2 separate regions of the Homo sapiens genome follow, and region 1 is linked to region 2. Evidence: fine-mapped expression QTL. A gene starts in region 2. The other region holds a variant in brackets. All regions are shown on one strand. Distances are between the middles of the regions. Region 1 holds the start of TTLL10-AS1 (TTLL10 antisense RNA 1). Region 2 holds the start of ISG15 (ISG15 ubiquitin like modifier).

The links. PIP is the estimated chance that this variant, and not a neighbour inherited with it, causes the effect.
Region 1: its variant is fine-mapped to the expression of ISG15 in fibroblasts (GTEx, PIP above 0.99).

The regions. Positions count from the first base shown.
Region 1 is chr1:1,175,650-1,187,761 of GRCh38, reverse strand. TTLL10 (tubulin tyrosine ligase like 10) reads right to left here. Exons shown (of 16, transcript NM_001130045.2): 4 at 8,429-8,573; 5 at 8,025-8,105; 6 at 7,422-7,728; 7 at 7,161-7,279; 8 at 6,902-7,031; 9 at 5,947-6,021; 10 at 5,316-5,401; 11 at 4,715-4,886; 12 at 3,671-3,842; 13 at 2,653-2,793. The coding sequence starts at 8,546. It overlaps TTLL10-AS1 (TTLL10 antisense RNA 1), which reads left to right and starts at 8,207. Exons shown (of 2, transcript NR_173246.1): 1 at 8,207-8,397; 2 at 11,366-12,112. RefSeq lists enhancers at 8,092-8,591, 11,647-12,112. The variant G/A (reference allele first, on the strand shown) is at 6,336.
Region 2 is chr1:1,008,379-1,020,490 of GRCh38, reverse strand. It overlaps ISG15 (ISG15 ubiquitin like modifier), which reads right to left and starts at 6,994. Exons shown (of 2, transcript NM_005101.4): 1 at 6,915-6,994; 2 at 5,951-6,507. The coding sequence starts at 6,917. The coding sequence ends at 6,013. It overlaps AGRN (agrin), which reads right to left and starts at 371. Exons shown (of 36, transcript NM_198576.4): 1 at 118-371. The coding sequence starts at 318. RefSeq lists silencers at 608-1,057, 4,735-4,955 and enhancers at 5,382-5,431, 5,882-5,941, 5,241-6,132, 6,102-6,511, 6,133-7,024 and 1 more.

The DNA of each region.
Region 1 (12,112 bases), 170 kb before region 2:
AGCTAATTTTTGTATTTTTAGTAGAGATGGGGTTTCTCCACATTGGCCAGGCTGGTCTCAAACTCCTGACCTCAGGTGATCCACCTTCCTCAGCCTCCCAAAGTGCAATGGATTTTTATTTTTTTGTTTTTTGAGATGGAGTCTTGCTCTGTTGCCCAGGCTAGAGTGCAGTGGCACGATCTTGGCTCACAGCTACCTCCACCTCCCGGGTTCAAGCAATTCTTCTTTCTCAGCCTCCCAAGTAGCTGGGACTACAAGCACCCACCACCACGCCTGGCTAATTTTCATATTTTTAGTAGAGATGGGGTTTCACCATATTGGTCAGGCTGGTCTTGAACTCCTGACCTCAGGTGATCTAACAACCATGGCCTCCCAAAGTGCTGGGATTACAGGCGTGAGTCACCGCACCTGGCACAATGGATTTTTAGATATGATACTAAAAGCATGAGTAACCAAAGGAAAAAAATGGATAAACTGGATTTCATCAAAACTAAAAGCTTTTGTGGTCAAAGGACATTATCAAGAAAGTGAAAAGACAGCCACAATATTCCAGAAAAATATTGGCAAATCATATGTCTGATAAAGGCCTAGTGTTTAGAATATGTAAAGAACTTTTGGCCGGGCGCGGTGGCTCACACCTATAATCCCAGCACTTTGGGAGGCCGAGGCGGGCAGATCACGAGGTCAGGAGATCGAGACCATCCTGGCTAACACGGTGAAACCCTGTCTCTACTAAAAATACAAAGAATTAGCCGGGCGTGGTGGCGGGCGCCTGTAGTCCCAGCTACTCGGGAGGCTGAGGCAGGAGAATGGCGTGAACCCGGGAGGCGGAGCTTGCAGTGAGCCGAGAATCACATCACTGCACTCCAGCCTGGACGACAGAGCGAGCCTCTGTCTCAAAAAAAAAAAAACAAAAAACAAACAAAAAAAACTTTCACAACTGGATGGTAAAGAACAGCCACAGCGTTTGAATAGACATTTCTCTAAAGAATATACATAGCTGGCCAGTGAACACATGAAGTTATTTGTCATTAGCAAAATGGAAATCAAACCCACAATGAGATATCCCTGCACACCGACCAGATGGTGATTCTTTAATAAAGAAAGGAAAATAACAAGTGTTGGCGAGATCTGGAGAAACTGGAAAAGTGATTCCTGGTTCCTCAGAAAGTTAAGTGTGTCACCCTGTGACCCACGACTCCATTCCTGGGTATTTTCCCAGGAGCACTGAAAATATATATTCATACAAACATTTTTGTGTGAATATTTATAGCAACATTATTCATAACAGCTCAATAATAAAACTGTGTCCACCAGCTGATGGCAAAATATGGTCCATCCATATGACGGAACGTTGTATGAAAGGGATACATGGCTGGGTGCAGTGGCTCACGCCTGTAATCCCAGCACTTTGGGAGGCTGAGGCGGGCGGGTCACCTGAGGTCAGGAGTTTGAGACCAGCCTGGCCAACACGGCAAAACCCCATCTCTACTAAAAATACAAAAATTAGCCGCGCGTGGTGGCGGGCACTTGTAGTTGCAGCTACTTGGGAGGCTGAGGCAGGAGAATTGCTTGAACCCAGGAGGTGGAGGTTGCAGTGAGCTGAGATTGTGCCACTGTACTCCAGCCTGGGCAACAGAGTGAGACTCTGTCTCAAAAAAAAAAAAAAGAAAAGAAAAGGATACGTGAACTACGTGGATGAACCCTGAAAACACCACGGTAAGAGAAAGGAGACAGGAGAGAGAGAGAAGGTCCATCAGCGGTGACCAGGAATGGCCGGCAATGTAGCTGTGATGGCTCGTTAGTAGTGTTTCTTTTTTGAGGTGATGAAATGTTCTGGAATTGGTGGTGATAATTGCACAACTTTTGAAATACTAAAAGCCACTGAACTGCACACTTTAAGATCGTGAATTTTATGTTCTGTGAATTATCGCAATTAAGAGAGAGTTTGGGAGATGTGAGGAAAGTAACTGGAGGCTCCTCTGAGCGCTGCCGTCCCAGCCACAGTGACACACGCCTGTGGGTGAGGAAGGACCATCCCTGGCTGCTGCTTCCGGGGCCTGGCCGGGGTGACCAAGACAGATAAAAGTCCTTCGGCCAAGCCCCGTTTTTATCCCAGTTTCACACCGCGCTGCTCAAGGGCCTTTGCTGCTAGGGCTGTTTGAAGTACCCCACAGGTACCCCCACAGAAAGGAACCCTGCAAAATTAGGACACTCCACCGCACATGGCCCTTAGCTAGGGAGAGTCCGGGCCTGCACGGGCAGCTGCTGCTGCTCCAGGACACCTGGCCCGGGGGCTGCTGTTGGCCCTGCCTGCCAAGTGGAGGATCTGAAAGGAACAAAGACTCTTCACATGGTGGCTGTCACTGAAGCCGAGCTGTCCCCTGACCCTACGGCGAGGCTGCCCGCGGGACTCGTGCCGACAGACCCCCGACTGGGCTTTCCGTCCGGGCCTTTGCTGGCTGCTGGGGACAGGCACTGCCAGCTAAGTGAGCAGAGACGCTGGAAGGGTTTGGTTCCACACGGTCAGGTCACACTTCAGCGCAGCCGCCCACGCACGCCACGGACATCTGTGTGCCTGGTGCCCAGCCTGACCACACACCCCCGCCCCGAGGGATCTCACTCCCAGACTGGAGGGCACAGTGGACGCACCTTGAGGGTGGTGAAGACCCAGTCCTTGGCGAGGCCCCGGGCCTTCCAGAACGTGTCACTGATGTAGCGGTTGAGGTGTTCCATGCTCCACACCGTGTGCTCCTTCAGCAGCATGTACAGAGGGCTCTTCTTCTGCATGAACTGGGGGCACACGGTGCCTGGAGACTGGCTCCCAGACTGTCCGGAGGGCCTGTCCTCACGGGGGTCCCCAAGAGAACATCCCCCTAACCTAGAAGGCTTCTGCATGAACTGGGGGCACACGGTGCCTGGAGACTGGCTCCCAGACTGTCCGGAGGGCCTGTCCTCACGGGGGTCCCCAAGAGAACATCCCCCTAACCTAGAAGGCTTCTGCATGAACTGGGGGCACACGGTGCCTGGAGACTGGCTCCCAGACTGTCCGGAGGGCCTGTCCTCACGGGGGTCCCCAAGAGAACATCCCCCTAACCTAGAAGGCCTGTTCTCTGGGGGTCCCTGAGACAGCCGCCCCTAACCTTGCTCCCCCGGCCCCACCCTGACCTGCCTGCAAAGACCCTCCCACAAAAACCTTCATCCGCTGAGACCCCCCTTCAGCCGTGAGGACCCCACAGATCTTCTCAGAAGGTCCCTACCCTGGACTCTCCCATGAAGACCCGTCCCCAGAAATCTCTGCCCACAGGGCCCCTCCTCTGACAGCCTCAGAATCCCCTCGGTTCCGACGCCCACCCGCACCCCATCCTCAGAAAACTCAGCTGCGGCTTGGGAGCCAGGCTGCACGCTGAGGGCTACAGGGCTCTGAGCCCTTTCACCAGCTAACGGGGTCCCTGCCACGCCCTTCTTCTGACGTGGCCAAAAGCGGGAGGTGAGAGGCAGTGCTCACTGCCAGCGGGGGCAGCCCAGGCTACTTCCAGGCCTGAGACACCTCCCGGCCTGGGCCACCTCCTTCTGTAGCTGCACCCCCTCTGCACCCCCTAGCAGTGAGAACCTCCTTCTAATCTCATCCCAAGGCTGCAGGGAGGGCCCTCACCCATGGCAGACTCACCTGGTTGGTCAAGTGGCCGCCGAGGTCGCTGGAATGGGGGTCGTAAAGGCTAAGGGTGAGGCGAGCATAGCCGTGGCCAAAGAAGATCATGTAGGGTGTGGTGCAGGCAATGAGCAGGTAGGAGCGCACGTCAAACTTTCTCCCGTCCACCAGCAGCGGGTTCTGGATGTACCTGGGGGCACCATGTCGGGGCTGCTGGGCTGAGCCACGGGGCCAGCCTGGCCTGCATCCCCTCACACCCCACCCCGGGCCTGTTCCATTTCCTCAGCGCCCCGCCTCTGTCCCAGGTGTGACCTCCAGGGAAAGGGGGCATTTCTGGGCCTGAATATGTCAGGGGAATTGGGAGGAAAGGCCTGGCACCCTGATGGGTGCTCCAGGGCATAACCGCAGTAGGAGCCTGGAGGGCTGCCTGGAGGAGGAGGGCATGAAGGTGGCTTTGGAGAGGAAGGGAAGGAGCGCGCCAGGCGGGCGCTAGGCAGAGGGAGCACAGCAGGCAGAGGGGGTGCGCCAGGCGGAGAGCTCGCCAGGTGGAGGGACGCGAGGGAGGAGCCGATGGAAGCTGGGGACGGCAGACGGCAGCTGTGGTCAGAGTGAGGCTCTACGAGGGCCGGGGGTGAGGTCGACAGGTCTAAACCTTCAGCCTCGTGCAGCCACGGGGCTTTCTGGAGGAAGCCTTCCCACTCAGGGAAGGAGTGGTCAGCTTGGCCATAGGCCTGAAGGCTGCAGCTGGCTGGCTGGGCCGGGGAGTAGGGGGGCTGGCAGCCGGGAGGCCACCCAGGCCAGGCCACCTGCAGGACAGAGGGGGCCCCAGCTGAAGGACAAACTGACTAACCCCTCAACCCTGGATCCTGTGTCTGTGACCCCGGCCTGGTGTGACCCCTCCCCTCTGCTGGCTACACGGGGGCCCGGCTGTGGTCTGCACAGGGGCTGGTGGTGCGGCTGCTTTCCACGACCAAGGGCTCCTCGGCGGCCCTGCTGACTGCACCAGTGGGGCCCGGGTCAGCCAGCCCAGACCCTCACCCCTCCGGGCACCCGCCGCCGCACCTCTGCACCACCCGCGCCTGAGGCCCCCGGAACGGCGTCTTGTGGTGGATGGGGTCGTCCTCCATGCTCCGGGTCTTGGCCTGCAGGGCGGCAACTTCCTCCTGGTTCCGGAGCAGGAAGATGCCTTTGCCCTGGTTGGAGGCTGTGGGCTTGCAGATCCATATCTGGGTTTCTGCAGAGAGCGCGGCCTGAGCCCCTGGCCTCGCCCCCAACCCAGCCACGCCCCTCCTAGGGCCCGACCAGGACCCTCCCCTCCAGGCTGCGACCCTCGGCCCGGCCATTCCAACCTTGGCCCTGCGCTAACCACACGCCTGGCCCCAGCTCCTGCCCGTGCCTCGACCACGCTCACCCGGACCAAGCTCCAGCCCTGGCCCCAGTGCCCTCATACCCCAACCTCCACGAAGGCCAGACCCTCCCCTTTCCAACTCCTCAGTCCCCACCCAGACCAGGCCCAGCCCTGGCCCCTTCCTGACCACCTCGTCTCGTCCCAGCCCCACGCAGCCCCTCCAGACCCAGCCCTGCCCTCATCAGCCCCCGCCTTGGTCCAGCCCTCACCCTGTCTCCCCAGGGCCAGCCTGGTGTCCGGCCAGCAGCGTCTCACCATCAAACAAGGTGAAAAAGGCCTCTCTCTCGTGTTTGAGGTCCAGGCGGTAGGTCTCTGGGAAAAACTCTTCCATTCTCAGGACCCTGCAGGGCAGGGAGGCAGGAGGATGAGCTGCTGTCCCTTCGCCCCTGGCTGGGTGGGCGGTTTGAGGCCCAGCCTGTGGCCCGGCGGGAGGGAGTGTGGGCAGTGGCACCTGGCGCCCGCGGCCGTTCTCCTTGTGGGGACTTTGCGTTTCCTGCCCCTTTGCAGCACCCCCCCAACGGGCTGTGCTGCTGGCTGCATCCTTCTGGCCGCTGACCCCCACCCGGGCCCCTCCCGCTGGCTGCTTTTTCCCTCATGGTTGCTCTCCCGGCTGGCACCGTCTCAGCCATTTGTGAGCCACCACCTCATGGCAGTGTCCTCACGGCTGGGATGGGCGGAGAGCGTGGCCTGAGCCCCTGGCCCTGCCCCAGCTCTGTGTGCACTGGGGGGTCAGCGTGGATCTCGGCCTGGCCTGGCTGAACCTCTGACTCTAGCTCGTGGTTTTCCTTTGTGTGGGACCCCCGCCCCGCTTTCTCCTTTTCAGACGACACCAGGTTTAGGTCTGAACTTCGGTCTGAAGGGCCCCTCACAGCTGGGCTGAGTCTACCTCTGTGGCCTGAGGTATCCTGGGCTTGTCCACGGGAGGTCCTCCAGGGCGGGCGCTGCTGCGTCCTTTTCCAGCCTGCAGCCCAGGGGACAGAGGGCCTGGACTGAGGGGCCAGCTCATGGTGCTTGGAGCGGGTGGGGACTGGGGGATGGGGCATGGGTGGTGAGTGGGCGGACTGTGAGTTGTGGTGGAAGGAGGTGGCTGGGTGGACGGCGGTGCCTGGGGGAAACAGCTGTGTTGCTCTAGGCTGGAAGTGGACGCTGGACATGGTGTAAAGCTGGTGTCACAGGCAACCAGGGGCGGGGGGTGCAGATGGAGGCAGCTGCGGTTGGCTGGGCGGGTGCTTGGTGCAAAAATGTCTGGGCCAAATGAAGTGAGGAGGGATAGGT[G/A]GGTCCATAGAAGGGCAGTGGGCAGGGCTGGGAGCAGGAGGACGAAGTCGCTAGGATGGATGGCCCAGACTTGGGTGAGCGATGGACGGCCTCACTCAGGGCACCCACAGGTGACGGTGGGCACGGTGTGGGATTGTGGATGGATTGGATGGATGTTTGGGGTGAAGGCAGATTGACAGGTGGGTTGTACCTGGGTGGGTCTGTGAGATGGACAGGTGGGTGGGTGTCAGGCCCAGTGGGTTGGGGACGTGTGGGATCTTCCCCGTTCAGCCACGAGGAAGAGGGTGGGTTTATGGGACAGGGGTTTGGCCCTTTAAAGGACAGGTGGAAGGTGGAGGCAGGTGCTGACGGGTGGGGGCTGGGGCCAGCCTGGGAGCCCAGGTGGCCAGGGGCAGGGGCAAGGGCAGGGGCAGGGGCTGGAGCCAGCCTGGGAGCCTGGGTGGCCAGGGGCAGGGGCAAGGGCAGGGGCGGGCGCAGGGGCAGGGGTGGGGCGGGTGCAGGGGCAGGGGCAGGGGCAGGCGTAGGGGCGGGCGCAGGGACGGGGGCAGGGGCAGGGGCAGACTCACCTGGCCTGGACCCCCCCCGGCACCTTGCTGGCCTTGCTCATGGCCCGTGCCCGTCCCCGAAGGGTGCTGAGCAGCCCGATCTTGGTGGTGAGGAGCTTGTTGTTGGGAAGCTGGTACAGCAGCTGCTCTCCTGGAGGTCAGAGGCCAGGGCTCGTGTGGAGGGAGCGCAGGACCTCGGTCCCCACCCCTCCAACCTGCCCTGTGCTCCGGCCCAGGAGGCCCCTGCAGGCTGCCCGCCTCTGGTGCCGGCTCCCGCTACCTTCCCGGAAGCTGCCGTAGCTGTCTCGGCTCTTGACCTCACACCACTTCAGCGTGTAGTCGTCCCGGCGGCTGTCATGGATGCGCTGCCAGCCCTTGCTTTTGCAGTAGGAGCTGATGCTGCGAGGGGTGGGGGCGGGGGTGACCTGGGGGCCGAGGCAAGGGGTTGGGGATGGCGGGCGGCCAGCGGAGGCCGGGCTGGGCCCCGGGAGCAGGCGGTGGGTATTCAGTGGGACCACGGGCGCCCAGGGCCGCTACTCACATTGTGGCCCCGTTGCTGCCTCCAATGTAGAAGAAGGGCCCCGGCCGGGTGCTGTGGGGCGATGGCTTCCCACCCCCCAGCAGGAGCCCCTCCAGGAGGGCAGCTGAGGGCCCGGCGGCGTTAGTGTCATCCGAGTCTGCAGGCCGGTGGCTGTTCAGGAGCCCAGGGGGTCCGGGTGTGGCAGAGGCTCTTTCTGCCCCCTCCAGGTCCGGCCCACAGTGTCCATCTGCGTCGTGGTCTGGCTGGCTTGGCTGACACCGGAGTCCCTCCTCCTGGCTGCTCCCCATTGGCCTCTCGTGGGCCGGGCCTGTGAACGGGGTGGGGTCCCACCGGGGTGGCTACGGGAGCTGCCCACTCAGCCCGGACATGGCTCAGCCAGTTTGCTCCCAGCCCATTTCTCCAATACCCTGGACAATCCCCCTGGCCCGTCTGGGGCTCAAGTTCAGCCCGAGCTCTGGCCCCACCAGGCGGCCTGGGGACTGCTTACATCTGGGGAGGGGCCGTGACCACCCTCCAGGGCCAGGCTTCCTGCCGGCAGGTTCCAGGTGGGGGTGGGGAGCTTGGAGCAGGGGGCAGGGAGGTCGCCCCTCCGACCCTCCTCACCAACAGGGCAGTGGCCTGGTGCAGGGCAGGGGCCGGGCTGTGAGGCCGGTGCTGGGTGCAGACGTGACGCAGGGATGGTCCCTGGAGGGCAGGGGTCACAATGTCCATGATGATGTCATGGGTGACCCAAGGGGCCATTGTCAGGCCGGGAGACGAGGGGCTGCCCTTCCAGGGGTGGTGCCAGCCAGGCGGAACCCTGGGCCGCGGAGCGCGACAGCTCCCCTCTGTGCCTGCAGAGCCCGGCGCCCACAGCTGGCCCCTCTCTCGGAGCAGCGGGGCATGGCCATGTGTGGATCCTGCCCCTGCCCCATGAGGCCGACTGACTTCCTTGGGTATGGGGCACCCGTCCCAGGGAGGCCTTGGCCTTGGAGAGGTAGGAGGCCACCCAGGGCTGCTCTATTCACCTGAGACTCGAGCCCGAGGCCTCTGCTGGATCCTTGGCCTCTTGCCCCTCTTGAAGCCGGCTCGGGTCCGAGTGGGTGGTCCCCGGCGGTGGATGAACCGGGTGCAGCTGTGGTCCATTGGCCGGGGGGTGCCCGGGCGAGGGCCCTGAAGGGAAGATGCCGCTCTGACCCTCCTGTGGGACCTCCGCGCGGCCCGAGGCCCCAGTGCTTGGATGGAGCAGGCAGTCAGGCCCACCCTGCCCAGGAAAGGGCGCCTCCCAGGGCCGTGGGCTTGAGCCTCTGCGTGCGGCTGGCTCCCGTCTCTGTGGCAGCTGTGGGGCCTGGCGCCGTGTGGGGGCGAGGCTGTCTCTGCACCCTGTCTCTGCCGGGCATGTCCTCCCTGGCCGGAGCGGCTCTTCAGGTGTGGCTGAGCTCGGCCTGGGTGCCGGCTGGAAGGAGGGGCAGCGTCAGGCCTGCTGGGTGGGGCGCCTGCCTGAAGAATGGAGGGTGGGAGGGCTCCTTGGCCTGAGCAGGGGTCTTCTCTGTCTCCGCTGCTGACCCCGGAGCCCAGCTGTGGGCTGTGTGCAGCCGCCTGGTACCTGCCATCAGGGTTCCTCTGCGGCCGCCCCTGGGTGCCAGGCCCGACCCCCAGGACACTGTCTCCAGCAACACCTTCCCATGTTGCAACTTAGGAATTTTCAGCCAGTTCCTCGACAGATCTTTCTACCTCTGTCTCCAGCAAACAAACCCATCTTGGGGCTGCTTGGGAGGTGAGAACTTTTTTTTTTTTTTTGAGACGGAGCTTCATTCTTGTGGCCCAGGCTGGAGTGCAATGGGGCGATCTAGGCTCACTGCAACCTCTGCCTCCCAGGTTCAAGCGATTCTCCTGCCTCAGCCTCCCAGGTAGCTGGGACTACAGGCACCCACCACCATGCCCAGCTAACTTTTTGTATTTTTAGTAGAGATGGGTTTTCTCCATGTTGGTCAGGCTGGTCTCAAACTCCCGACCTCAGGTGATCCGCCTGCCTCGGCCTCTGAAAGTGCTGGGATAACAGGTGTGAGCCACTGTGCCCGGCTTAGGTGAGGGCTTTCAAGGGTTTGAAGGAACTCGCCCAGGAGACAGGGGAGCACACGGCAGTGTTGGGCAGAGGCTGTGGGGGCTCTGAGGCTGGAGAAGGCTGGGGTAGGCCTGAGGCTCCAGGCTGGGCACAGAGCTCGGCACCAATCTCACCCGCAGGAAGCCTTTGTGTCTGCCCCTCCCTGCCCCGCCTGAGTGACAGGAGGGAAGGAGACAACGAGGAAGCCCACGGGCAGGGGAAGGTGGGGAAACTGAGGCAGCCGTCTGCACGATGACCCAGTCGGGTGGGGCCACTGGGACCCGTCCTCAGGGAGGAGCGGAACACAGGCTGGGCCCCCCACCTGTGTCTGGGAGAGCCTCACGCCCTCTTCCTAGGGTGGGCTGGGCAAGAATGGAAGAAGTCAGGAGCCCTGAGACCCCTCCCCACCCAGAACAGGAGGACTTTTGGAAGAGGCTGGACCCTGCGCAGGCACGGAGCAGGTGTGTGCGTGCAAGACTCTGCATTAAATGGGAGACCTCAGCTCCTTCTCATGGGCCCTCAGCACCCAGGATTCCTGCTGGGGAAGGGGATCCTCTAAAGTACTGACTCTCAGCCAAAGGGGCTGCCCAGGCCCAACAGGCATCATCAGAGGGACTCCCAAGTGTGAAGAAGAGTGACACAAGGACAGCCGGGCGCGGAGGCTCACGCCTGTAATCCCAGCACTGTGGGAGGCTGAGGCGGGCAGATCATGAGGTCAGGAGATTGAGACCATCCTGGCTAATATGATGAAACCTTGTCTCTACTAAAAATGCAAAAAATTAGCCGGGCATGGTGTTGGGCGCCTGTAGTCCCAGCTCCTTGAGGGGCTGAGGCAGGAGAATAGCTTGAACCTGGGAGGTGGAGCTTGCAGTGAGCTGAGATCGTGCCACTGCACTCCAGCCTGGGCGACAGAGCGAGACTCCGTCTCAAAAAAAAAAAGAATGACACACAGACACATTTACACACACACACGCACAGACACACAGCTACACACAGACACACACAGACATGTCGACACTTGCACAGATGCACAGACACACCTACACACACAGACACATGGATGCACAGACACACCTACAGACATGCACACACACACCTATAAACATGCACAGACACACCTACAGACACCTACACACAGACACGTCTACACACACACGTACACACAGACACACACACAGACACCCACACACACACACAGACACCCACACACACAGACGCTGACACACACAGACACGCAGACATGTAGACACACAGACACACAGACGCACACAGAGGAAGAGAAAAGGGGAGAAACAGGGAAACAAACCAGCCTGGAAAAGGCTGGGGTGATGGAGACAGGACCCCTCAGAGAGCCGCGTGCTTTTAAAGCAAAGGCACAGAGAATACAAAAGAGCCGGTGGGAATTAAAAATGCAACACCGGGGTTGGGATTTAAGTCAAGGAAACTGCCCAGAAGGGAACCCTGGGGATGGGACTGTGGGTGTAAATCCGAGGTGCCGCACAGCAGGGTCACCGTGGAGCCCCAGGCGAGAGGGGAGGCCCGGGGAGATACAGGCACAGAGCCGGAGGAAGGAGGTGTGGTCCTGGCCAGCCCTGGGTGCCCACCGAGGCCACTAGCAGCCCTCCAGCCTTCCTGGGGACACACAGGGCTGGAACCGGCCCAGGAGGCTCCCAGCCGGGAATTCCAGGAATTCCATACCTGGCCTACCAGGTGTGGAGGTGGGAAAAGGTGTGGAGGTGGGAAAAGGTGAGGAGACATCCGTCCCTCCGGGAAGCCTGGAAGACTCTCACAGGAGTGAGCTGTCAGGGAAAAGATGCAGCAGCTGTGAGCTTGCAGCTGACCTGATGACTGTGTGCCCCAGCCTCTCCAGCTGTACAGCGTCAGCCTCTCTCCAGCTGCACAGCGTCAGCCTCTCTCCACCTGCACAGTGTCAGCCTCTCTCCACCTGCACAGCGGCTGGGAGCAGCAGCCTCTCCACCTGCACAGCGTCAGCCTCTCTCCACCTGCACAGCGTCAGCCTCTCTCCACCTGCACAGCGGCTGGGAGCAGCAGCCTCTCCACCGGCACAGCGGCAGCCTCTCTCCACCTGCACAGCGTCAGCCTCTCTCCACCTGCACAGCGTCAGCCTCTCTCCACCTGCACAGCGGCTGGGAGCAGCAGTCTCTCCACCTGCACAGCGGCAGCCTCTCTCCACCTGCACAGCGTCAGCCTCTCCACCTGCACAGCGTCAGCCTCTCTCCACCTGCACAGTGGCTGGGAGCAGCAGCCTCTCCACCTGCACAGCGTCAGCCTCTTTCCACCTGCACAGCGTCAGCCTCTCTCCACCTGCACAGCGGCTGGGAGCAGCAGCCTCTCCACCGGCACAGCGGCAGCCTCTCTCCACCTGCACGGCAGCAGCCTCTCCACCGGCACAGCGGCAGCCTCTCTCCACCTGCACGGTGGCAGCCTCTCTCCACCTGCACAGCGGCTGGGAGCAGCAGCCTCTCCACCTGCACAACAGCAGCCTCTCTCCACCTGCACAGCAGCTGGGAGCAGCAGCCTCGCAGGGTTGCTGCAAAGATGGAGTTTCCACATGTAATGTCAGGACAGCACCCGCCACACACTGCGC
Region 2 (12,112 bases):
CAAGGGAGCCGGAGCGGGGGCTGCGGAGCGACCGGGGCTGGTTCCCACGGCCTGGGGCGGGGGTCCCGGCGGGGCGGCAGGCGTCGCGAGGGGAGGCCGGGGTCCGGGTGGGCGCACCTTGCAGGAGTACGTGTGCTGCACCGGGTCCACGTTGAGGATCTCCTCCACCGTCCCGGTGAGCACCACGTTCGCCTCCTCCTCGCGCCGCTCCAGCGCGCGCTCCGGGCATGTCCCGCCGGCTCCGGGCAGGACGCACGCGGCCACCACAAGGAGCGGCAGCAGCGGCCGCAGCGGGCCCGGGTGGGACCGGCCGGCCATGGCGCAGGCGAGAGGCGGCGGAGGAGCGCGCGGGCCGCGCCGGGGACGGGACTGGACAGGACGGGACGCAGCTCCGGAGGCGGCGGAGCGCGGGCGGGCGGGCGGGGGGGGGCGGGGCCAGGGCGGCGCCCCTCCCCCTCTCTCCTCCCCGCCCCCCTACCCCCTCCCCGCGCCCTCCTCCTCCCCCTCCTCCTTCCTTCCCCCTCCCGCCCCCTCCCTCCTCCCTCCCCCGGCCCGCCCGGAGGCCGGCGACCCGCGCCGCCGCGAACAAAGCCCCGGGACGCAGCGCCCGGCGCGGCCGTGGGGCGGGAAAGGGGCGGCCCGGGAGGGGGCGGGGAGAGGAGAGTGGGGGGCGGGTCTGGATCCCGCAGGCGCCCCTCCCCCGCCGCGGCCCCCCGGAAGTGCGGCTGCACCCGAGTTAATGCCTAATCTGGAGGAGACGTGACGGGACTGCCGAGGGGCTCCGGGCGGCGCGGAGCCGGGCGGCAGGGCTCGAAGGCCGCCGGGAGGGGCCCCAGACCCGGCCCCGATCCCGCTCCGCAGGCCGCGCCCCTCCCCCGCGGGGCCGGACACCGAGGCTCGGCCGGGCCGGACCCCCCGGGAGCTGCGGCGCGGAGGCGGGTCCCGGTGCCGGGGCGGGCGCTGATTGGCCAGCACGGGGCGCGGCCCCGCCCCTCCCGGCCCCGCCCCCCCAGGCCCCGCCGCGGGGAGGTTCGCGCCCCCTTCCGTCCCGCGGCTGCAAGCGCGGGTCCCGCCACGCCCCTTCCCAGCTCTGGGCCGGGCGCCTCTGCAGCTTGGCCTGGCTGGGTGCAGGGGGAAACTGAGGGCTGGAGGACCCAAGTGGGAGCCTGGCCTAGCTGAAGATTGAAAGGAGGGAGCGGAGGCCCCCTTTGTCCCTTCAGAACTGTGTCTAGGCTGGGCGTGGTGACTCACGCCTGTCATCCCAGCACTCTGGGAGGCGGAGGCAGCAAGATCTCTTGACACCGGGTGTTCGAGACTAGCCTGGGCAAAATAGCAAGACCCCATCTCTCAAAAAAATTAAAAATTAGCTGGATGGGCCGGGCGCAGTGGCTCACGCCTGTAATCCCAGCACTTTGGGAGGCTGAGGCAGGTGGATCACGGGAGGTCAGGAGTTCGAGACCAGCCTGGCCAACATGGTGAAACCCCGTCTCTACTAAAAATACAAAAATTGGCCGGTGTGGTGGCAGGCGCCTGTAGTCCTAGCTACTTGGGAGGCTGAGGCAGGAGAATCGCTTGAACCCAGGAGGCGGAGGTTGCAGTGAGCTGAGATGGTGCTGAGAGGTGACAGCGTGCTGGCAGTCCTCACAGCCCTCTCTCGGTCTTCACGCCTCCTCTGCCTGGGCTCCCACTTTGGTGGCACTTGAGGAGCCCTTCAGCCCACCGCTGCACTGTGGGAGCCCCTTTCTGGGCTGGCCAAGGCGGGAGCCGGCTCCCTCAGCTTGCAGGGAGGTGTGGAGGGAGAGGCATGAGCGGGAACCGGGGCTGCGCGCGGCTCTTGCGGGCCAGCTGGAGTTCCGAGTGGGCGTGGGCTTGGTGGGCCCCGCACTTGGAGCAGCCGGCCGGCCCTGCCGGCCCGGAGCAATGAGGGGCTTAGCACCCGGGCCAGCGGCTGCGGAGGGTGTAGTGGGTCCCCCAGCAGTGCCAGCCCACTGGCGCTGCACTCGATTACTCGCCAGGCCTTAGCTGCCTTCCGGCGGGGCAGAGCTGGGGACCTGCAGCCCACCATGCCTGAGCCTCCCACCCCCTCCGTGGGCTCCTGTGCGGCCCAAGCCTCCCCGATGAGCGCTGCCCCCTGCTCCACCGTGCCTAGTCCCATGACCACCCAAGGGCTGAGGAGTGCGGGTGCACAGCGCAGGACTGGCAGGCAGCTCCACTTGCAGCCCCAGTGCGGGATCCACTGGGTGAAGCCAGCTGGGCTCCTGAGTGGTGGAGACGTGGAGAACCTTTATGTCTAGCTCAGGGATTGTAAATACACCAATCAGCACCCTGTGTCTAGCTCAGAGTCTGTGAATGCACCAATAGACAGACACTCTGTATCTAGCTACTCTGGTGGGGCCTTGGAGAACCTTTATGTCTAGCTCAGGGATTGTAAATACACCAATCGGCACTCTGTATCTAGCTCAAGGTTTGTAAATACACCAATCAGCACCCTGTGTCTAGCTCAGGGTTTGTGAATGCGCCAGTGGACACTCTGTATCTAGCTACTCTGGTGAGACCTTGGAGAACATTTATGTCTAGCTCAGGGATTGTAAATACACCAATCGGCACTCTGTATCTAGCTCAAGGTTTGTAAATACACCAATCAGCGCCCTGTGTCTAGCTCAGGGTTTGTGAATGTGCCAGTGGACTCTGTATCTAGCTACTCTGGTGGGGCCTTGGAGAACCTTTGTGTGGATACTCTGTATCTAACTAATCTGGTGGGGACGTGGAGAACCTTTGTGTCTAGCTCAGGGATTGTAAATGCACCAATCAGCGCCCTGTCAAAACAGACCACTAGGCTCTACCCATCAGCAGGATGTGGGTGGGGCCAGATAAGAGAATAAAAGCAGGCTGCCGGTGCTAGCAGTGGCAACCCGGTCAGGTCCCCTTCCACACAGTGGAGGCTTTGTTCTTTCGCTCTTTGCAATAAATCTTGCTACTGCTCACTTTTTGGGTTCACACTGCTTTTATGAGCTGTAACACTCACCGCCAAGGTCTGCAGCTTCACTCCTGAAACCAGCGAGACCACGAGCCCACCGGGAGGAACAAAAAATCCAGACGCGCTGCCTTAAGAGCTGTAACACTCGCCGCCAAGGTCTGCAGCTTCACTCCTGAGCCAGCGAGACCACGAACCCACCAGAAGGAAGAAACTCCGAACATATCCGAACATCAGAAGGAACGAACTGAAGACGCGCCGACTTAAGAGCTGTAACACTCACCGCGAGGGTCCGTGGCTTCATTCTTGAAGTCAGTGAGACCAAGAACCCACCAATTCTGGACACAGTGCAACTGCACTCCAGCCTGGGTGACAGAGCGAGACTGTTTCAAAAAAAAAAAATTAGTCGACGGGCCGGGCGTGGTGGCTCAGGCCTGTAATCCCAGCACTTTGGGAGGCCGAGGTGGGCGGATCACTTGAGGTCAGTAGTTCGAGACCAGCCTGGCCAACATGGTGAAACTCTGTCTCTACTATAAATACAGACAGGGCACGGTAACTCACGCTTGTGATCCCAGCACTTTGGGCAGCCAAGGGGGGAGTGGATCACAAGGTCAGGAGTTCGGGACCAGCCTGACCAACATGGTGAAACTGCCTCTACTAAAAAATTAGCCGGGTGACACGCACCTGTAATCCCAGCCAGTCAGGAGGCTGAGGCAGGAGAATCGCTTGAACTCAGGAGGTGGAGCTTGCAGTGAGCCGAGATCACACCACTGCACTCCAGCCTGGGCGACAGAGCGAAACTCCATCTCAAAGAAACACAAAACAAAACAAATACAAAATTAGCCAGGTGTGGTGACACGCACCTGTAATCCCAGCTCCTCGGGAGGCTGAGGCGGGAGGATCACTTGAGTGTGGGAGGTGGAGGCTGCGGTGAGCGGTGATTGTGCCACTGCACTCCAGCCTAGCTGAGAGTATGACCCTGGGAAAAGTAAGTAATTTTTTTAAAAAAAGGACTGGGTCAGTCAGGCCCAGTGGTTCACACCTGTAATCCCAGCATTTTGGGAGCCCGAGGCAGGCGGACCACTTGAGGCCAGGAGTTCAAGACCAGCCTGGCCAACATGATGAAACCCCATCTCTACTAAAAATACAAAAATTAGGCCGGGTGCGGGGGCTCACACTTGTAACCCTAGCACTTTGGAAGGCTGAAGCGGGCGGATCATGAGGTCAGGAATTCGAGACTAGCCTGGCCAATACAGTGAAACGCTGTCTCTACTAAAAACACAAAAAAAAGTTAGCTGGGTGAGGTGGCGGGCACCATTAATCCCAACTACTTGGGAGGCTGAGGCAGGAGAATTGCTTGAACCCGGGAGGTGGAGGTTGCAGTGAACCGAGATGGCGCCACTGCACTCCAGCCTGAGCGACAGAGTGAGACTCTATCTCAAAAAAAAAAAAAAAAGCACGGGTGCGGTGGCTCACGCCTGTAATCCCAGCACTTTGGGAGGCCGAGATGGGCGGATCACGAGGTCAGGAGATCGAGACCATCCTGGCTAACACGGTGAAACCCCGCCTCTACTGAAAATACAAAAAAAAATTAGCCGGGCGTGGTGGCGGGCGCCTGTAGTCCCAGCTACTCGGGAGGCTGAGGCAGGAGAATGGCGTGAACCCGGGAGGTGGAGCTTGCAGTGAGCAGAGATCGCGCCACTGCACTCCAGCCTGGGCGACAAAGCGAGACTCCGTGTCAAAAAAAATAATAATAAAAAGGACTGGGCCTGTGGTGCCCCTCTCACCCCAGGCTAGCTACAGATCTCTGAGCCAGAAGCCACAAAGGAGGCCCTGCCCTGCCCTGCCCCCGTTGGGGGTTCAGGAAAGGCCCCTGGCTAAGTGCTTCACTCGCCCATTGTGACACAGGGGTGAGGTGGGGACCCGGACACAAGGCTGGAGCCAGGACACCCCCTGCTGGGCACATGCGGGCACACACAGTGGTCCTGGTGCAGCCAGATGGGGGTCTCCCCACCTGGATATGGACCCCCACAGACCAGGGGGGACTCTGTGTCTCCAGCCGGATCCTCCCGAGGGCTCTGAAAGCTGAGGCCCAAGTGCCCAGAGTCCGGACTCTGCATGTCCCTCTGTGCCCCGTCCTCGCTGCATCCCAGCCGACATCCGTGCCCCGTCCTCCCTGCTTCCCGGCCAACAGCTGGCTTCTAGGAGACTCATTTAGCAAATTGGAATAGGAGAGACAGAGAAGGGTGCATGGGTGGGGGAAGGGGTGTAGCTTGTAGCTTGTACTGAATTGGGGGCCCCCCACCTGGGACAAGCTCTGCTTCCTGGACGGTGTCAGCCCCAACTCCAGGTGCCCTCCACTGCTGGCCACGGCCCCTCCTTCACGCACAGCCTTGAGGGGGTGTACTTAGCCACCCAGGCTGTCTTCTGCAGCTGGCCCCAGTGGTGATGTGAGTGCTCAGGACCTGTCTCTACCCCTCCCTAGCCCAGCCCAGGCAGGTGGAGCAGGCTGTGTAGGCTGGGCTAGGGACGGCTGAGGTCCCCAGCCCCCAGTTCCTATGGAGAGCCTGCCTCACAGCCCACCGGGCAGGCCCCAAGGACTCACCCCTTACTGCTCCCAGGGGCCCACTGGGAGCCTCCCCTTTTGATCTGATCAGGCGGGTCCCTGCCTAAGCCGTCTGCTGTCCCAGATGGAGGACAGGCAGGATGGGCTCCAGCAACTGTGTCTCTTTTTCTTTTCCTAGAAGTTAATTTCCCAAAGGGTGGGGAGAGCTGTCTTACTTCAGTTTCGGGGTGGGGGGCTCCCTATTTTGATCCCTCGAAGCTGTAACTGCAAACCCTTATCCCTTCACTTGGCAGCCCAGGCCTGGTCACCAGGATGGACCCTGGGTTCTCCCTCCTGACTTCTCCCGCCCCATCACCAGGGGTCTGAGGCGGACGCTGGAGGAGGGGCAAGCACAGACACAGAGGCGGCCATTTCTCTTTACAACAGCCTTTATTTCCGGCCCTTGATCCTGCTCGGATGCTGGTGGAGGCCCTTAGCTCCGCCCGCCAGGCTCTGTGCCGCCTCCCCGCAGGCGCAGATTCATGAACACGGTGCTCAGGGGCTTGAGGCCGTACTCCCCCAGCGGGAGCTGGTCCTCCAGGGGCTTCCCCTCGAAGGTCAGCCAGAACAGGTCGTCCTGCACACCCTCCAGCCCGCTCACTTGCTGCTTCAGGTGGGCCACGGTCTGCGTCAGCCGTACCTCGTAGGTGCTGCTGCGGCCCTTGTTATTCCTCACCAGGATGCTCAGAGGTTCGTCGCATTTGTCCACCACCAGCAGGACCGTGCTGCCGGGGCCCAGGCCCTGGCTGGCAAGGGGGACCCTGTCCTGCAGCGCCACACCGCTCGGGTGGACAGCCAGACGCTGCTGGAAGGCGTGCACGCCGATCTTCTGGGTGATCTGCGCCTTCAGCTCTGACACCGACATGGAGCTGCTCAGGGACACCTGGAATTCGTTGCCCGCCAGCATCTTCACCGTCAGGTCCCAGCCCTGCAGGCGTCACACAGGTTCAGAGACTGCGGCGCCAGCCCCAGGCCCACCACACACAAGGCACTGGCTGCAGGGCGAGCTCCTGTACCCAGGGACAGTGCTCCCTCCTGTCTGTCCTCTACATCCCGCCGGCAGGGACCCCAGGCACAGAAGGCACTGAGGGCTCGTTACTAGAAGGCCAGCTGCCCACCGCCATCCCGTGGCCTCCCTTTACCTGCTAGGGTGCCCCTCTGTGCCCCACCCTGAGGATCTCAGGGGTGACCTGCTTTCAGGAGCACACTTAGAACCTGGCCAAGCTCTGAGCAGCTCCGCTCTCCCTGCACCCCTGGGAGACCTTGGCTGGGGGAGGGAGACGAAAATTGGCTGGCACAGAGCCCACCTCCCCCCACCTGTGACATCTGCCTTACCATGGCTGTGGGCTGTGGGCTGTGGGCCACGGCACAAGCTCCTGTACTGGCAAAGATGAGTTCGCTGCCTCTCAGCCGCCGGCTTCGGCAGGCAGCACCGGCCCTATTATAAGCCTGAGGCACACACGTCAGGGGGCGTGCCGCCGAGCCTGCGCTGGTGGCCAAATTTGGCTTCAGTTTCGGTTTCCCTTTCCCGAGGCATGCCCCAGAGTGAGCGGAAGAAACAAAACCGAATGACCGAAAGACAGGGAAAAGCAAAAGTGGCGGGGACTCCGGACAGCGGACGGCATCCCCACCCCCACCCAACACCCTGGAAACACCTAAATATCGCGCATTCCAGATCCTTCACAGGATGCACTAAAGCTGTCATCACATGGACTAATGGTTTCATTTTCCATTTACCAACTTGCAAAATTAGTAAACTTGGAAAACATCCCCATGGTTAATTGAGAAACAAGAACTCCAAACTACCCAGAGATAACAACACTCGGTTTAGGGCAGTATTTGCTCAGATTGGTGTTTTTTTGTTGTTGTTTTTGTGTTTTTGAGACAGGGTCTCTCACTCTGTCGCCCAGGCTGGAGTGCAGAGGCACGATCTCATCTCATTGCAACCTCCGCCTGCCAGGCTAAAGCGATCCTCTCACCTCAGCCTCCCACGTAGCTGGGACCACAGGGGTGCACCACCAGGCCCGGCTAATTTTTTGTATTTTTAGTAGAGATGGGGGTCTCGCCATGTCGCCCAGGCTGATCTCGAACTCCTGGGCTCAAGTGATCCACCTGCCTCGGCCTCTGAAACTGCTGGGATTACAGGCGTGAGCCACTGCACCCGGAGCCTCAGATTGTTTTTTAATAAAAGAGACCTATCTTTTATTTTCTACAAAAATGAACTCTGGGACACTATTGAGAAAGTGAAAAGACAATCCATAGAATGGGAAGAAATATTTGCAAATTATCTATCTGATGAGGGCATAGCATCCAGGACATATAGAGAACTCTTACAACTCAATAAAAAATAAAAATAAAAAAAAAAGGCAACTCAATTTTCAAATGGCCAAAAGACTTCAATAGACATTTCTCCAATGACATAGAAACGGCTGTAAAGTGATGTTCAACATCATTATTAATTGGGGAAATGCAAATCAAAACCCCAGTGAGATGCTATTTCCTGCTGGTATGACTGTAATAATAAAAATAAAGGCCAGGCCGGGTGCGGTGGCTCACGCCTGCAATCCCAACACTTTGGGAGGCTGAGGCGGGCGGATCACCTAAGGTCAGGAGTTTGAGACCAGCCTGGCCAACATTTTTAGTAGAAACCCCATCTCTACTAAAAATACAAAAATTAGCTGGGCGTGGTGGTGCACGCCTGTAATCCCAGCTACTTGGGAGGCTGAGGCGGGAGAATCCCTTGAACCCAGGAGGCAGAGATTGTGGTGAGCCAAGATTGCACCAATGCACTCCAGCCTGGGCAGCAGAGCAAGACAGTCTCAAAAAATAATATAAAATAAACATAAAGGCAGTAACAAGCACTGGGGAATACATAGAGGAACTGGAATCCTGGTACATGCATTGCTGTTGAGAATGTAAAACAGTGCGGCCGCCGCGATGCTCAAAACGTTCAACAGAATTATTGGGAACCCAGCAGTTCCACTTCTAGGCATGTGTCCAAAAGAATTGAAAATAGGTGTTCAAATACTTGCATACAAATGTCCATGGCAGCACAGTTTACAATAAACAAGTAGCAGGAACGGAGCACATGTCCATCAGTGATGGATGGACACACAAAGTGTGGAATGTCCACACAACGGAATATTATGCAGCCATGAAAAGGACTGAGGCACTGATTCATGTGAAAGAACCTTGAAAACGTTATGCTAAGTGGAAAGAGCCAGACACGAAGGCCGCAGAGTGTTGGTTCCATTCACCGCAGGGGAAACGACCGGAACTGGTAGAGCCGCAGCACAGGAAGCCGACCCCGTTACCGGGGGCCAGGGAGGGGGAGTGGGGGGTGATTGCTTCAGAGCCACAAGCCCCTTTGGGGGTGACAATGTTTCAGAACTCCACAGAGGTGATGGTTGGACAACGTGGTAAATAACTAAACGCCACTGGATTTCATTCTTTAAAATGGTTAGTTTTATGTTATATGAATTTCACATCAATAAAAAGCAAAGGTGAAAAGGCCTCACCATACTTTCACTGTTTTGTAACCTGCTTCATTCATGCAACAGTGTATCATAAACATCTATCCAGGCCAGGCGGCTCATGCCTGTAATGCCGGCATTTCGGGAGGCTGAGGCGGGAGGATCATTTGAGATCAGGAGTTCGAGACCAGCCTGACCTACATGGCGAAACCCCATCTCTACTAAAAATACAACAACAACAAAAAAGGCCAGGTACAGGGGCTCACGCCTGTAATCCCAGCACTTTGGGAGGCCGAGGCAGGCAGATCACCTGAGGTCAGGAGTTCAAGACCAGCCTGGCCAATATGGTGAAACTCCGTCCCTACTAAAAATGCGAAAAATTAGCTGGGCATGGGCCGGGCGCAGTGGCTCACCTGTAATCCCAGCACTTTGAGAGACCGAGGCGGGTAGATCACCTGAGGTCAGCAGTTTGAGACCAGCCTGGCCAACATGGTGAAACCCCATCTCTACTAAAAATACAAAAATTAGCTGGGCGTGGTGGTGGGCACCTGTAATCCCAGATACTTGGGAGGCTGAGGCAGGAGAATCACTTGAGCCTGGGAGGCGGAGGCTGCAGTGAGCCGAGATCGCTTCACTGCACTCCAGCCTGGGTGAGAGAGCGAGACCCTGTCTCAAAAAAAAAAAAAAAAAACCCAAAAAACAAAAACACGCATCTATCCGTGTTGGTGGACGCATCTGTGCAGGTTGTTTTAACAACTGCATGTTTCCCATGGAAGAATGAGCCTGTTACAGTACAGAGTTAATTTAGTTAAAACCCATCCCACATCACTGAATACTTAGGCTGTTCCCAAATTGTTGTTGTTACACACAGCACATAACAAGAGAAGGATAGCTAAGACTCAGTAATAAACAAATAAATAAAATATTTAAATAAGATTCAAATAAATAAATAAATAATTTTTAAATAAACAAGTGTAAGAGTGAAAAATCAACATATTCTGAATATGAATCCTGGCCCTTCCCCGTCTCCCAGCAAATCTCAGGGGTCACCAAAATTGTCAGCATCTGAAAACCAAAGAGGAGGCGGGGTGGCGGCTCACGCCTGTGATCCCAGCGCTTTGGGAGGACGAGGCGGGCAAATCACTTGAGGTCAGGAGTTCAAGACCAGCCTAGCCAACATGGTGAAACCCCATCTCTACTAAAAATGCAAAAATTAGCTGGGTGTGGTGGCTCACACCTGTAGTCCCAGCTACTCGAGAGGCTGAGGCAGGAGAATTGCTTGAGCCCTGGAGGTGGAGGTTGCAGTGAGCTGAGATCGCGCCACTGCCCTCCAGCCTGGGCGACGAGAACAAGACCCTGTCTCAAACAAACAAACACCACAGTCCCAGGACTTTGGGAGGCCGAGGCAGGCAGATGGCTTGAGCCCAGGAGTTTGAGACCAGCCTGGGCAACATGGTGAAACCCTGTCCCTGCAATACATAAAAAAATTGGCCGGGCGTGGTGGCGCACACCTGTAGTCCTGGCTACTTTGGAGGCTGAGGTGGGAGGATAGCTTGAACCCGGGAGGTGGAGGCTGCAGTGAGCTGTGATCGCACCACTGCACTCCAGCCTGGGTGACAGAGCGAGACCCTGTCTCAAAACCAAACCAAACCCAAGCAAAACAAACAAAAAACCCAGGATTTTCTATTTATTTTTATCATTTTAGATGCCCTGTTAAACATGGTATATGTTTCCTGATTTCTTTTCTTTTTTTTTTTTTTGAGACGGAGTCTTGCTGTCGCCCAGGCTGGAGTGCAGTGGTGCCATCTCAGCTCACTGCAAGCTCCGCCTCCAGGGCTCAAGCAATTCTCCTGCCTCAGCCTCCCGAGCAGCTGGGACTACAGGCGCCCACCACCACGCTTGGCTAATTTTTTGTATTTTTAGTAGAGACGGGGTTTCACCGTGTTACCCAGGATGGTCTCGATCTCCTGACCTCGTGATCCGCCCACCTCATCCTCCCAAAGTGCTGAGATTACAGGCGTGAGCCACCGCGCCCGGCCCGTTTCCTGATTTCTTAATGCTGACGTACGGTGCTAGAATCTTCCTTTCCTTTTGGTTACTTCATCCCATCTCTGCCAGTTGTCTTCCTGCTTCGACAGAACCAACCCCAGGCACAGGCACCGAGGAAGGTGACCAGACCTGCAGTCACTTGCTTTAGTTTCCTGGGGTTGCTGAACAATGTACCACAAACTGGGTGTTAAACTTCACACCACAGAAATGTATTCTCTCGTAGTTCTCCAGGCCAAAAGCCCAAAATTCATGTGGACTAAATGACCAAGATTGTCAGATGGTGGCTCACATCTGTAATTTCAGCACTTTGGAAGCAAAGCCTAGAGGATCGCTTGAGCCTGGGAGTTTGAGACCAGCCTGGGCAACATAGTGAGACCCCACCTCTAAAAAAAAAAATAGCCGGGCGTGGTGGTGGGCGCCTGCAGTCCCAGCTACTCGGGAGGCTGAGGCACGAGAATGGCTTGAACCCGGGAGGCGGAGGATGCAGTGAGCCGAGATTGCGACACTGCACTCCAGCCTGGGCGACAGAGCAAGACCGTGTCTCAAAAATAAAAATGAAACAAAACGCCGGGCGCGGTGGCTCACACCTGTAATCCCAGCACTTTGGGAGGCCAAGGCGGGTGAATCGCCTGAGGTCAGGAGTTCAAGACCAGCCTGGCCAACACAGTGAAACCCCGTCTCTACTAAAAAGGCAAAATGAGTACGGCGTGGTGGTGGGCACCTGTAGTCCCAGCTACTTGGGAGGCTGAGGCAGGAGAATTGCTTGAACCTGGGAGGCGGAGGTTGCAGTGAGCCGAGATCGTGCCATTGCACTCCAGCCTGGGGGACAAGAACGAAACTCCGTCTCAAAAAAAGAAAGAAAGAAACAAACAAACAAAACAAACAACTGGCTCTGTGTGGCTTCCAGAGACAAGAATCATCTGAAACATAAAGACACAGCAAGTTTGAACATCAAGCAATGGAAAGAAGCATACCACACAAATATTAAGTAAAAGGAAGCAGGTGTGGATA